Regions from separate parts of the Homo sapiens genome. Here regions 1, 2 and 3 are each reported to be linked to region 4. The links are microRNA targets in miRTarBase. Many come from high-throughput screens and were not tested one by one. Region 4 holds a microRNA gene; each other region holds the end of a gene's coding sequence. Distances are from middle to middle.
Evidence for each region. Region 4 holds the annotated microRNA hsa-miR-4645-3p (AGACAGUAGUUCUUGCCUGGUU, at 2,079-2,100, shown strand). A microRNA usually pairs through its seed, bases 2 to 8, with sites in the 3' UTR of a target mRNA and lowers its output. Matches are read on the target gene's strand: a 7mer-m8 pairs with bases 2 to 8, a 7mer-A1 pairs with bases 2 to 7 and ends in A, and an 8mer does both.

Region 1: the mRNA of ZBTB22 is a reported target of hsa-miR-4645-3p. Seed matches in the 3' UTR shown: 7mer-m8 at 2,691-2,697.
Region 2: the mRNA of SEMA5A is a reported target of hsa-miR-4645-3p. The part of its 3' UTR that is shown has no 7-base or 8-base seed match.
Region 3: miRTarBase lists SERBP1 as a target of hsa-miR-4645-3p. Seed matches in the 3' UTR shown: 7mer-A1 at 2,375-2,381.

Annotation. Positions count from the first base shown.
Region 1 is chr6:33,312,220-33,315,219 of GRCh38, forward strand. ZBTB22 (zinc finger and BTB domain containing 22) reads right to left here. Exons shown (of 2, transcript NM_005453.5): 2 at 2,199-3,000. The coding sequence ends at 2,793. It overlaps TAPBP (TAP binding protein), which reads right to left and starts at 1,859. Exons shown (of 8, transcript NM_003190.5): 1 at 1,786-1,859; 2 at 1,475-1,645; 3 at 998-1,258. The coding sequence starts at 1,822. RefSeq lists an enhancer at 2,413-3,000.
Region 2 is chr5:9,040,287-9,043,487 of GRCh38, reverse strand. SEMA5A (semaphorin 5A) reads left to right here. Exons shown (of 23, transcript NM_003966.3): 23 at 472-3,201. The coding sequence ends at 591. Among named protein-coding and RNA genes, the nearest start is that of MIR4636, 12 kb to the left of the region's middle.
Region 3 is chr1:67,410,725-67,413,724 of GRCh38, forward strand. SERBP1 (SERPINE1 mRNA binding protein 1) reads right to left here. Exons shown (of 8, transcript NM_001018069.2): 8 at 1-2,539. The coding sequence ends at 2,483. Among named protein-coding and RNA genes, the nearest start is that of SERBP1, 18 kb to the right of the region's middle.
Region 4 is chr6:2,852,939-2,856,139 of GRCh38, reverse strand. It overlaps MIR4645 (microRNA 4645), which reads left to right and starts at 2,033; the gene lies at 2,033-2,109. It also overlaps the pseudogene SERPINB9P1. RefSeq lists enhancers at 747-876, 937-996, 1,573-2,313.

The DNA.
Region 1 (3,000 bases), 30 Mb from region 4:
CAGGGTGGGGGCTTGAGACTAAGAATGGAGGTATAGGCAGAGGTGAGGGTTTCAGCGTGGGTTTCAAGTCTGTCTCCCTGGTTCTGTGGGTAATTCTCAGGAGGGTGGAGGGAAGGGAGGGTGCAGGGATTGGTTGGGGTTGCCCTGTCCATCGGGCTGTGTCGCTGACATAAAATCCAGATAGAAAAGCTAAGAACTCTACCGGTATTCTACCCCGGAATACCCCGCCTCCGCTGCCAGGAGGGAGAGCTCCCAGATATCCAGGTCAGACTCTCCTCATTCTTGAATTATCTGCACAGTCCCTCCCACGTCCCAGCCTAGAAAAGCTTCTGACTCCTGGGCCTCAAACTGCAATGCACCTTTCAGTGCAATAGGAGCTATCCAATCTCCAGCCGCGTCCATCCGCCCACTCGAGCCCACCTGTTTGCGGACCACAGAGCGGCAGCACATCCCTACACGGGGCTGTCAGGCAAGGTCAACGCGCTAGAGTGCAAGAGCCTTTGCTTTGCGGATTGCCGCAGCGCCGGGTGTGGGCGCAGGTGGGGATAGAGTGCTGGGTTTTGAAAGAGTGACCCGCAAAGCTGAGGGTGCAGAGCAAGACACAGATCTGGGAAGAGCAGAGAAAAAACGCTCCTGCTTCTGAACCCCTCCCACCTCGCATCACCTGACAAGTCTCTCAAGGTCTGGTGTCGGGAAACCCCACCTCTTCAAAGCCCCGCCCTTCGAAACACCAGAAAGTAACCCCCCTGCCCGGCCCTGCTTTCCCCCTACCCCCTGCCAAGCTGCAGTTTTTTTTTTGTTTTTTTTTTTTAACTGGGTGAGGGCTAGAAGGAGCGGTAGAGATTGATTCATTCTAGCCAAACCACCTCTCTTAACAAAAAAAGGAAACTGAACCCCGATTGGCGAAATGTCTTGCTCAAGTCCATAAAGCGAGACCACCGGCTGATCTGGACCCTTAGAATCTACCCACCCTTCTCCACCTCCCCTCCCCAGCTACCTGTTGCCATGGTGATGAGAACAGGCTCCTGCTGAGGCTCTGGCTGTGGTCGCAAGAGGCTGGAGAGGCTGAGGACTGGGCTGGATATGCTGACCATCAGCCAAGCCCCATCCAGGGCCCGCGGGCAGTTCTGCGCGGGGGTCAGGCCGCTGGCCCATTTCGCAGAGGCGGGGAGAGGCACGAAGCGGCTCATCTCGCAGTGTGGTGCGGGGGCGCCCCGGGGATACCGCCTGAAGGCAGCCTGGAGGGCGCCCGCGGGGTCTGAGTGTAGAGAAGGAAGTTGCAGCTGTAGAGTCACCGCCGGGAAAGGGGCTGGAAGGGCAGCGTTCGGGGAACTTCAAATGCACAGACTACCCCGTAGTGAGACTCACTTTACAAAGGGGAAGCTGAGGCCTGAGGTCACTGCCGGATCTAAAGAGGAGGGGGTTTCGGTGGAGGCGACAGAGGTAGGGGGGCGGCGAGTCCCTAGAGACTCACCGTGTACACTGAGATAGAGCTCAGGGTCGAGGTCCGGCCGGGGCGGCGGTTCCCCCGGTCCCTGGCGCAACAGCAGTGCACCGGGTCTCTTGGCCAGGCCCTTTCCGCTCGCATCCTCCACGAACCAACACTCGATCACCGCGGGTCCTGCTGAGACGGCGGTCGCCAGGCCTGGCGTATAGGGACGCGAGTGAGGAGCGGTTTGTATGTCTGGTGACCTGCCCCACTCCCACCCTGGCATCGGCTCCAGTGGGGCCACCTCCCTCCGCTTCCCTCTAGTTCTTGGGCGATGAGTCGCGGGGTTCGCTCACCCAAAGCCACAGCGAGGAGCAGAGACAGGGACTTCATGGCGCTGCGACCTCCTCAGCCATGAAGCCTCCTCTTCCTCCTTTCACTTTCACTTTCCTCCAAAGGGCGGCATGAGGGGCGGTGGAAATCCCCGCTCTGGTTAGGTGAAGGTGCCTGGGGGACCGGTGTTTCCCCACTGGCCAGGCAGGGACCCGGGTAGATCCTCTCCAGTTCTCACCAGGACACCCCAGCCTTACCGCGCCCTCCTGGACTACCCAGCAGCCCCGAGTTCGAGCCCTCCCCAACCCCAGGCCCTCCCCCGCCCCCCAACTCCTGTGTGTGCTCTCCAACATCCACTTGCCCGAAAACCATTACTCCGGCTTCCCCCTATCTGTGCCGCGTCCCCAGCAAACACACGGGTTATCGGGAAGCCAAGTAAATGACCAATAAATATTTTAATCACTGTTAAAAAAAATAAAAACCTTGTACTCCTACGACTTACTCCCTCCTTGTCTCCACCCACTCCTCCATGAGAACCGAGTTGGGAATTTCCACGGGAAGTCGGGGGTGGCGGGGAGAGACAGGGTAGAAATAAAGAGCGCATCCTTGAGAGGGGGTAGGTTCTAGGACAAGGGTGGGGCTCAAAGGCCTTGTCTCCACGACAACACAAACACAGACTTCAGGCACAGACTACAACCACCTGACCCCTGACCCTGTGACTGCAGGATGTTCAACACGCCCCCTCTCCCTCCCTCCATGTGCAATCTACTCTGTGGAGCAGGGGCTTCAGTGTACCCATCAGAGGGAAAGGAAGGGTTTAGTTCTGGAAATACCTTGGGGGGGAGGGGTTGAGTAGTAGAATGGGCGGGCGATGGTGAAACTGTGGTTCCCCTTCCAGAATATATACAAGTCCACAGAGATAAAGGAAGACAGTAAGTGTGGTGGGAGATCACCCGGGGGCCACAGCGCCCTTGCATCGTGCTCCTTATTCCCTTTCCCGAAAGCTACCCCACCCCAGTAGCCTGCCCCTTCAGTTTGCTCCTCCACCTCCACCGAAGCCCATCTCCACCTTGTGGACTCTGGGTGGGGACCAGACACGTCTGCTGGACGGGGGCGTGGCCGCACTCGCTTCGTCGCCGCTGCCCCCGCCCACTCCGGGAGACTCTCTCTTGGACGGCAAGGATGGCCCCGTGGGAGTCCCAGGCCCAGGTACGGCCCCGACCCCGCCCAGGCGGTGC
Region 2 (3,201 bases), not on the chromosome of region 4:
ATTTGAAACCTGAGGCCCTTACTTAAATAAGTTCCATCAAGGTCTCCGATAAATGTCCTCACCCATGGTCATCTGAAAGCTGCTTATATATCTATTCAGTTATATGAATACGAATTTAGTTATATATATTCAGTTACAGTCAAAGTGTCTGTTAATTTGAAATCATTATAGTTTTAGGTTTTCTAGAGATTTAGATTTAGATTTTCTTACCTCCTGCTTCTCGTGGTAACTTCATAACTAAAGTTGAAAACTTAACCAGAAGATATCACAAACTGCCAACCTTATTCTGGTAATTAGGCAAGTCCTCCATGGGGCAAATAATCTGGGGAAGCAAATAAATAAGAAAACATATTTTAAAATATGGAGTCTTAGCAGAGAGCTCAAATTCAACATAATAGTCATCCTTGTTATATTATTTCTGAAATGCTACTCAGCATTCTTAAACCTGTTTTTTTTTAATATATTTTCCAGGCATTTAACAAAAACAACTTGATCCTAGAGGAAAGAAACAAATACTTCAACCCACATCTCACTGGGAAGACCTATTCTAATGCCTACTTTACAGATCTCAATAATTATGATGAGTACTAACAGCTTTCATGTTTTTGGCTTCTTGTAAATCCCCAGTTCCTCAAGGCCTGTGCCCCATGACTGCCCATGTTTCTGAGGCTTCAGAGTCGAAGTTTGGATACATTTCAAGTGCATTTCAAGCCACCAGAGTGTCCCATTGCTGCCAAAAATACACGTCTTTAAAAGCAACAAAAATTGAAATAAGACATCGTGAAAATCTTGACCATTGTTGAATGAGCCAGGGTGTGAAGTTTTTAATTGTGTTCATCCTATTTTTCTGACAAGTCCATTGGTTTGTTTTTTGAGCATTATTTTATAAATGTGCCACCCACATTGGAAGGAGTCTTTCTTTAGAACTTTGGAGTGTAAATCTTCATGATGTTGTAATTCAAGAAAATAGGCACTTTCTCTGAAAGACCTGCTCCTTCCACAAGAAGTGCATAGGTCCATAATATTTCATAAAATGAAGAAAAAGAATGTGGCCAAACAATTATTCACCATGGATTGCCCAACTTTCCAAATCTGGATAAAGCTGTGGGATTCTTGGAAGCAGCTTGAGTGTTTTCATCTTGCCTGGGAAGCCCAGGAATTCCACCTGGTCCACACCGGCAGAAGTTACAGTAGACTGTGAGGCACCCCACCTTGCTCCTGATGCAGTTTCTGTGCCATTGCTGGTGCTGGTGGAGGCAGCGGAGCAGAGGCTCAGGCACAATGAAGCGTGGATGTGTTCTGCAGGTTGCTGCAAAACTCACCTTATTCTGACTTTTGGATTTCATGGCATTCCAGGAAGCTCCTTGCCATGCTGTTGGCCTGGAAGTCCACCTGTCTGGTCCATAGTGACGTCCTGAAGAGCCAGTCTGTAAAATAACCAACCACTTACTTAGCGTTTGGATAGACTCCATGCCTTCTCTCTCCCTGCAAAGAAAAATCTTGAACATTTATGATGTCAATTAGTGAAAGTATTGAAAATACTAAATTATAACTAAAAGCAACTTTTTATGTTATTGAAAATATTGAAAGAACTGATATTAATGATAATCATTTTATTTTTCATCTCTCTGATATACCCAATGTGTGGCAATCAGCCCCTACCACGAGCATTAATACCATGTAAAGCTGGCTTTCTGGAGTCTGCCAGGTCCACACGAAGTGCTACCCCCAGTTTCTGCTGTTACTTGCTGCCTCCAGGCCAGGGGAGCAGGAGATGCTCAGCTCTGGTGCCTTTTCTTTTATTTCAGTGCTGCCTTCCCACCCACCCAGTCCATTCACCCTCACCTCTCCCTGCATGGAGGCAACAGCATTTCAAGATGTACCTTGGGAAGTCAGGATAGCTGGAAGTAAGGGTTTTTGGGATCCCTGTGGTCTCTTCACTGATCATCGATAAGCATTTAAGAGTGTGCTAACACCATTCACAGAGGTCCCTGGAAAAAAATATATAATTTTCTCACAAACAACCAATACATAACCTATGGCAGTTGGTTGAATAATTATTGAAAAAAAGAACACGACTGAAAAAGTTCATCTGATGCCTCTGAGCATGTGATAAAGTCCTGGGTAGACACGGAAACGTGTTCTTACAAATGAACCTTCGGATCTATGAAAGAAAATATAGTAGGGGGACTAAGGAACATAGAATTTTATTAGCATATGTGATTTTACCCTTATCTTTGTTTCTAATTTAAAGAAACAATTTCAGAAAGTGTTAGAAGAATTCTATGTTTAATAATGAATATTGTTGAGTTCAAAATATTCTCATATACCCAGATTTACAGAGATGACACAGTATTGAAATGGCAGGTGGGCTCTGTAAGTTATTTTGGATTAATGACATTCAGGGTCTTTGCAGTGGGGACTTCATGTTGCCTCTCACTCATTCCTCATATGTCAGAGTCTTCTGTCTATATGCACATGCTCAAAGTCCATACTCAGTAGGGGAAATCTAGCCGGATGGTTCTCCAATTGTTCCTCGGCTGGATTTTCATCATCAGATATTTCAACTCATCTCATCAGTTTCTTGTAAGAAAAAAACATTTTCACTTTGTAGCACATTTTAGTTATTTTTGAGTCTTCTTCCCTAATAGTTTGTAAGCTTAAAGGGACATTTTATTTTCCCTGGTAAAGAGGATTCTAATATTTCAAGAATGTTTCACTGGAATTGATGGGAAATGGTTTCTAAATGGCATCGAAGCTGGTCTTTAATGAGTCTTTTGCAATGACTTGGGAAAAACACCCTCCCTCACTACAGGATCTTCATGTTGTTAATAATATAAACAAACCTTTGAAATTAGCATTGCAAAAGAATCCCATTTTTGTTTCGTACCACACTGTTCAAAGGAAAATTGTTTATCTCTCTTCCTTTCTCTCTCTCTCTTATTTGACAGAATAGCAAGTGTTTAGATAATTTCAGATATATTCTAAGTATTTTACCAGCTGTGGAATAAGTTGTGTTTGTCCATCACTGTGTAGCTACCGTTCACATGTTCTGGCTCTGTACTCCACGCTTATCGCGTGAACCCTCACATGTTGGACTTTCACAGTGTGATCTCTCACCTGTCTTGGAAACTCCTTCATAAAGCCGCTCTTCCTTAGGCCTGGGCTGTTTGGAAGTCCTGGTGAAACTTTGCGGTTCAC
Region 3 (3,000 bases), not on the chromosome of region 4:
AGTTTGTCAATCAAAAGTAGCATTCAGTATGCTTAACTTTCATTATCAAAAAAGTGATCTGCTAAGAAGTGACAATCAGATTAAATCCAAGAAGTCCTTGGATTTTGTATTTTACAAGAATTCAACTTTCCCAATTAAGTCATTAGTCATTAAGATAAGTACCCTTCCCAAATGTGATTCAACAGCCTGGTTTTTAGCAAATAAAAACCCCATATAAAATTCAATTTAAAAATTATAAACACACAGGGGTGTGCACACAGGTCAGAAACCAGGAAACACATGACAATAAACATGATCCTATTTGATTGTTTTTATGACTTTTAAGAAGTGAGCATGAAAATAAATCTTTATTTTCAGTTATTACCCACCAATAAGAGAAAGTTAGGTTCACAGTTTTAGCTCTTGACACAAAGTGAACTAGGAGGCAAATTTATATCCATCAGATACAACTAATGCACCAACTTTTTAAGTTCAGGCTATCTTGAAAGCTTGCAACATACCAGATATTGCTATGTTGTCTCTCACGACAGCAATGGATGACACTGAGAAGTTGTGTTTTGAGTAGCAGGTGTTTTCTATAGTATGTTGCTGGAAATCAAGAGGTTTATAAAACATGGTACATGTTTGGAAATGAGTTAGATACTTGAAAAGTCTAAACACACTGATTTAGGAGTGCGTATGTTGCTGTCTCAATGAACAATGGGTCAATAGTTCATATGGACTAAATTAATCTCTGGGTAGCACGTATGTGTGTAAATATAAAATTATATTAGACATTAGCACCAGTGCAGAACATGCTCAGCATCATAAGATCCAAAACACCAGCACAAGTTTATCCATCATTAAAAACAATTACCTCCTTCCTAAAATGTCAGAATAGTAGGTAACTGAGATTAATAAATCTTATCCAAAAAGTAACTCTTATAACATAAAAGTTTCTTTTAGAAGTATATGTGAGAACCAATCAGCTAAATAGAAATGTTTAAGATTGAAGATGTCCAATATTTTTAAAACTGGACATTACCATATACAGGTAGAACATTTCTAAAAATGACGTGACAAACAATTCTTAAAAATTTTTTAAAAATTCCTTCACTGTTTATCAATAAATGTGGCAGAATAAAAGACAATCCTAGAAAACTTTTTTAATTCATCATTCTATGTGTGTTTTAATAAGTGGTGATGCTCCCATTATAGGAATCCATTATTTACCTAATTTTCTAATGGAGGAAGAGAGAAGAGATAATTACCACTTTCTGTGGAATACTCAACTTACAACCAAATAATAGCAATCTAGGAAATTTAGAAACAGTAAAGGTTTTTGGTTTATATTTCATGTATAGTGCTGCTGTTCCAACCTTACAAAGTAAAGCTGTCTGCTTCCCAAATTCCAAAAATTAAAATACTCCCCCACCTCACCCTACCAACCAGCGCCCTTTGGTTTTTGTTTTAGAACAAGGAAGGGTTAAATGGTGGCTGATTATGGATGTACCATTTTGATTTTGGGACCTTTCACACACAGAAATCATACCAAATGGCCAGACACTTATTTTACAGAACAGTTTAAATATTACACATTGGCCAAATCAACTTATTCCACCCACCCTGGTGAAGGGGGAGAAAAAACCCATACCTATAAAACTACTTCACTTGACACGATGTGCCTACCAACAATAAGTAGTTTAAACAACTTTCACCAATTAAGATGTCTAGTTTAGATTTTAAAATGGGAAACTCAAGCATTTAAAAAGTAAATATAGCTGAAAATGTAAATCAGTTATAATTTGAACCTAATGAGCCATGCAAGGAGCAAGGGTTAATAAACCAAATGTGCTTTGAATTTGTTCAAGTACTGATATTTCTGTATATAAAGATTTAGCATATATATATAACAGCTATCATGAGAAGTGAAAAAAGATTTTTCCCCAAAAATGAAAATATTAAAACTAAGTTAAAATACATATAGTTAGTATTCCACACAGCATAAAATTTGACAAATCAAAGTTTAACATGTCCCAGTTGACCATGTGTGAATATGCAAAGCAGGTATTAAAACCAGTATGTCCAATATTTAAAACCAGTTTGTAATTGGGGGAACTTCTAAATCCTTAATTAAAAAACACAAATGAAGTGAAAGCTTTAAACTGGTACACACTGTTCACACCTATATTTCAAGTTTGGAAATGCATATTTGCAAGCAGCAATACAAAAGTATTCATGAAGAATGCATAATCTCTGAAAATTATGAAAACATCCCTGCTACCAATACATTTCTAAATACAAAACTGACTACCATATTTGTTACTTCTGTGTAGCGGGAGAAGTTCATTTTTAAAACAGATAAAATTCAGTCTTTAGGTGTGAATGGTATGAATGACAGTCTTTTTTTTTTTAATTTCTTAGTCGTTTGGAATCCTTAAGCATGCAAAAGCTTTGAACAGAAGGGTTCACAAAGGAACCAGGGTTGTCTTATGGCATCCAGTTAAGCCAGAGCTGGGAATGCCTCTGGGTCATCCACATCAGGAGCAGAAGCACTTGACTGAAAAAGAAAAACCAAAATTAACCACAGTTCTCAGTTCTTCAAAATTACATTGTTAGCTAGTGTCTACATTAAGACAGAACTCTAAAAAAATCTTACTGTTGGCCAGGCACAGTGGCTCACACCTGTAATCCCAGCGCTTTGGGAGGCCAAGGTGGGTGGATCACCTGAGGTCAGGAGTTTGAGACCAGCCTGGCCAACATGGTGAAATCCTGTCTGTACTAAAAATATAAACAATTAGCTGGGTGTGGTGGCAGGCACCTGTGATCCCACTACTCAAGAGGCTGAGGCAGGAGAATCGCTTGAACCTGGGAGGCAAGGGTTGCAGTGAGCCGAGACTGTGCCACTGCACTCCAGCCTGGGAAACAGAGTGAGACTCCATCTCAAAAAAAAAAAAAAAAAAATCCTACTGTTAAAATTCTAGGTAAAATGTATCAAGACAAAATTATGGATCACAAAAA
Region 4 (3,201 bases):
GGGCCTCAAAGTTAAAATGTTGAAATTATTTCCTAGTAATCTTACTATACTTAGAGTCACAGAGACAGATACACTGAAAAGACGGACAGAAATTACTTTAATGATAAAAGTTAAGCTCATGTTCCATGAAAGAAATGCCATAAGAATGTTTTCTAAATCCTATGCTTAACTTCGGAATAGCGCAATTAGATTGCATTGCATTTTTGAAAGATCACTTGTTAAATACAAAATTTTAAAACATACCACAATATTTGGCACTTCATTTTCTTTATTAAACAAGGAGACTCAGAAAATCATAGTGGCCTGGGCCCATGTGAACCTCTGTGAAAGCCTCCCACAGGGAGAGAGGACTGGGATGCCATGGTCCTAGGTGGGAATGGGGGGAGCAGTGTAGGCCTCGGTGCGGACCCAATGCTGGGGCCCTAAGGCTCTCTCCTCTTTTCTTCCAGGTGGAAAATGAGCTTATATATGAAGAAGTCAGCGAGTGGACAAAGCCAGGCGCAATGGATAGCAAAGATGTGGAAGTCTCCTCGATTCAAGTTACAAGAAAACCGCAGCATGGAGTCTGCTCTCAGCTGTTGGGGAATTACCGATGCCTTTGACTAAGTCAAGACTGACTTTTCCAGAATATCACCCAAGAGATAGAGCCGTCCCTGTCCAAGTTTGTGCGCTAGCCCTTCATGGAGGTCAGAGAGGAAGAAACAAAGGCAGCTGTGGCCTCGGCGGTCACAGTGTCAGAACGCACAAGCCCCATAAAGAGGTTTCACGCAGGCCACCCATCCCTTTTCATTCTCCAGCAGAACAGGACAGAGAGCGTTCTGTTCTGCGGAAGGTCTTCCACTCTACAAGGCAATCCCTCCAGCTGCTTTGCTGTATTGTGCTGTCTCCTGTCACACTATGAATGCAGTGACCTCAGCCAGCAACAGGGAGAACCCCCCTGCCTCCCGAACAAAGGACCTCACGTGAAATCCTGAGCTCAGAGCTTACAGATATGTGTGCGCTTTCACTTTACATCGGCCGTGACTTCCAAACAACTTCAGGAAACTTTAGGATCTCTGAGGTATACTGGAGATGACAGCAGCGTAGAATGTTCATTTGGATTTAGAACAGAAATGCTTATTTTATATTTGGCTGCTCCCAAACTGTCCCCAGACTTCCTCTCCAGTGGTTACCCTCCACTGCCCTGGATGTCCCACGTTTACACTCCACACTCACACCTCCACCTTAACAAAGTCCTCCACTGGGTCAAACCATACATCGCTTCGTCTCTGTAGTGATGACTTCCTGTCCTCTGCTCTGTGGATAAAGACCCCAGATAAAGATGCCTGTGTTGCTCAACTCTTGTAAATACTCTTGAGACATTTTGAAAGCAGAAGGAAAGGAGACAGACGGGGAAAATAAAAGGGATGGTCTGCTTGTGCGGAAACGTTTTGAGAATGCCCTTCCCTAAGAGAGAACAGTAAAAGTGAGCAATACTTCCTGAGCTGTGGGTTCATATGGCTGGACTGTGCTGTTTCTCACGGGAGAAGTTCTCGTCTCCCCTGCGTGTACATCCCTGTTTGCCAGCCTGGCCTTCGGTGTGGTGATATCATGGTGCACTCCCAGGAGGGAAGTGCTTGGTCAAGACTTCTGCTTGGGTTCGACTATCAGTTCTGGTTTCCTTTAAGGCACAGGATCTTCCCTTTAAGGCACAAACACCCCCTTGACACAAAGTAAGGGACAAGGGAACTTTAAACCATTTGGAAACCCAAGCACAATAGGCTGTAGGTTGTAAAAAGAAATTACAAAGGTAATTTTATCCAGAAGAGGGAGCAGTTTAACTTCTGCAGGGTAAGATTCAGATTCACTTTTGTAACTGAACAGGGAATTTTCTAAATATTTTGAAAATGCCGAAACATTTCCTGTTGGCATTTCACAGAAACGTTCAAAGTTCCCTAATGATAGTTTCCGCTGTGCTCACTCCGGAGGCTGCTAAGCAACCTCAGTAATTAGCTCGATTGAGGAAACGAAACTGTGGGGGACTCAGTTTCCATGATAGGGAAACCAGGCAAGAAATATTGTCTCCTCAAGTTGCGACGAGACAGTAGTTCTTGCCTGGTTTCTCTATCATGGAGTCTTGGTTGGACTCTGCTATGCGTCTCTTGATGAAATGTGATACTAGCAATTGAACAATTAAGAAAATGGATGGCGGGGGGTGGAGCGGTTTGTCACTACTGGAGTTGCAGAGGCTCAGTGGGGGAACCTGAGAAACACTGCGTCCCCCAGGTCATCACCGCGTCAGCACTGATGAGTCATGTTGATGGCATGGACCCTGAATATGACACAATGAGATGTCACTTTACCTCTGTGGCCTTTCCCAGAAAAAACCATAACCCCAGTCTAACCATGAGAAAAATATAAGACAATGGTGCAGGCAGGGCATTTCAGGAGAGGGTCAGGTAAAGGGGAGGGGGTCCCAGGAGAGGGTCAGGGGAGGGGACTTCAGGAGAGGGACAGGGAGAGGGGAGGGGGCTCCAGGAGAGGGTCAGGGAAAGGGGAGGGGGTCCCAGGAGAGGGTCAGGGAAAGGGGAGGGGGGTCCCAGGTGAGGGTCAGGGGAGGGGACTTCAGGAGAGGGACAGGGAGAGGGGAGGGGGCTCCAGGAGAGGGTCAGGGAAAGGGGAGGGGACTTCAGGTGAGGGTCAGGGAAAGGCGAGGGGGTCCCAGGACAGGGTCAGGGGAGGGGACTTCAGGAGAGGGACAGGGAGGGGGGAGGGGGGCTCCAGGAGAGGGTCAGGGATAGGGGAGGGGGGTCCCAGGAGAGGATCAGGGGAAGGGGTGGGGCTTCAGGAGAGGGTCTGAGAACACACAGGCAGGCAACACCTTAAAATCCCATCTCAGTCAGCAATGACTCCTCATAGGGCCACCACGAGCTTAAATGTCACTTAAATGTCCCTATTTGCCAGCCTGGACTTCGGTGTGGTGATATCATGGTGCATTCCCAGGAGGGAAGTGCTTGGTCAAGACTTCTGCTTGGGTTCGACTGTCGGTTCTGGTTTCACATGCACTGTGTGAACACGCTTCATACAGAGGGTCAGCACCGCACTGTGTGAACATGCTTCATGCAGAGAGCCTGTACTGCACCAGGTGAACACACTTCATACAGAGAGTCAGCACCGCACCGTGTGAACATGCTTCATACAGAGAGTCAGCACCGCACTGTG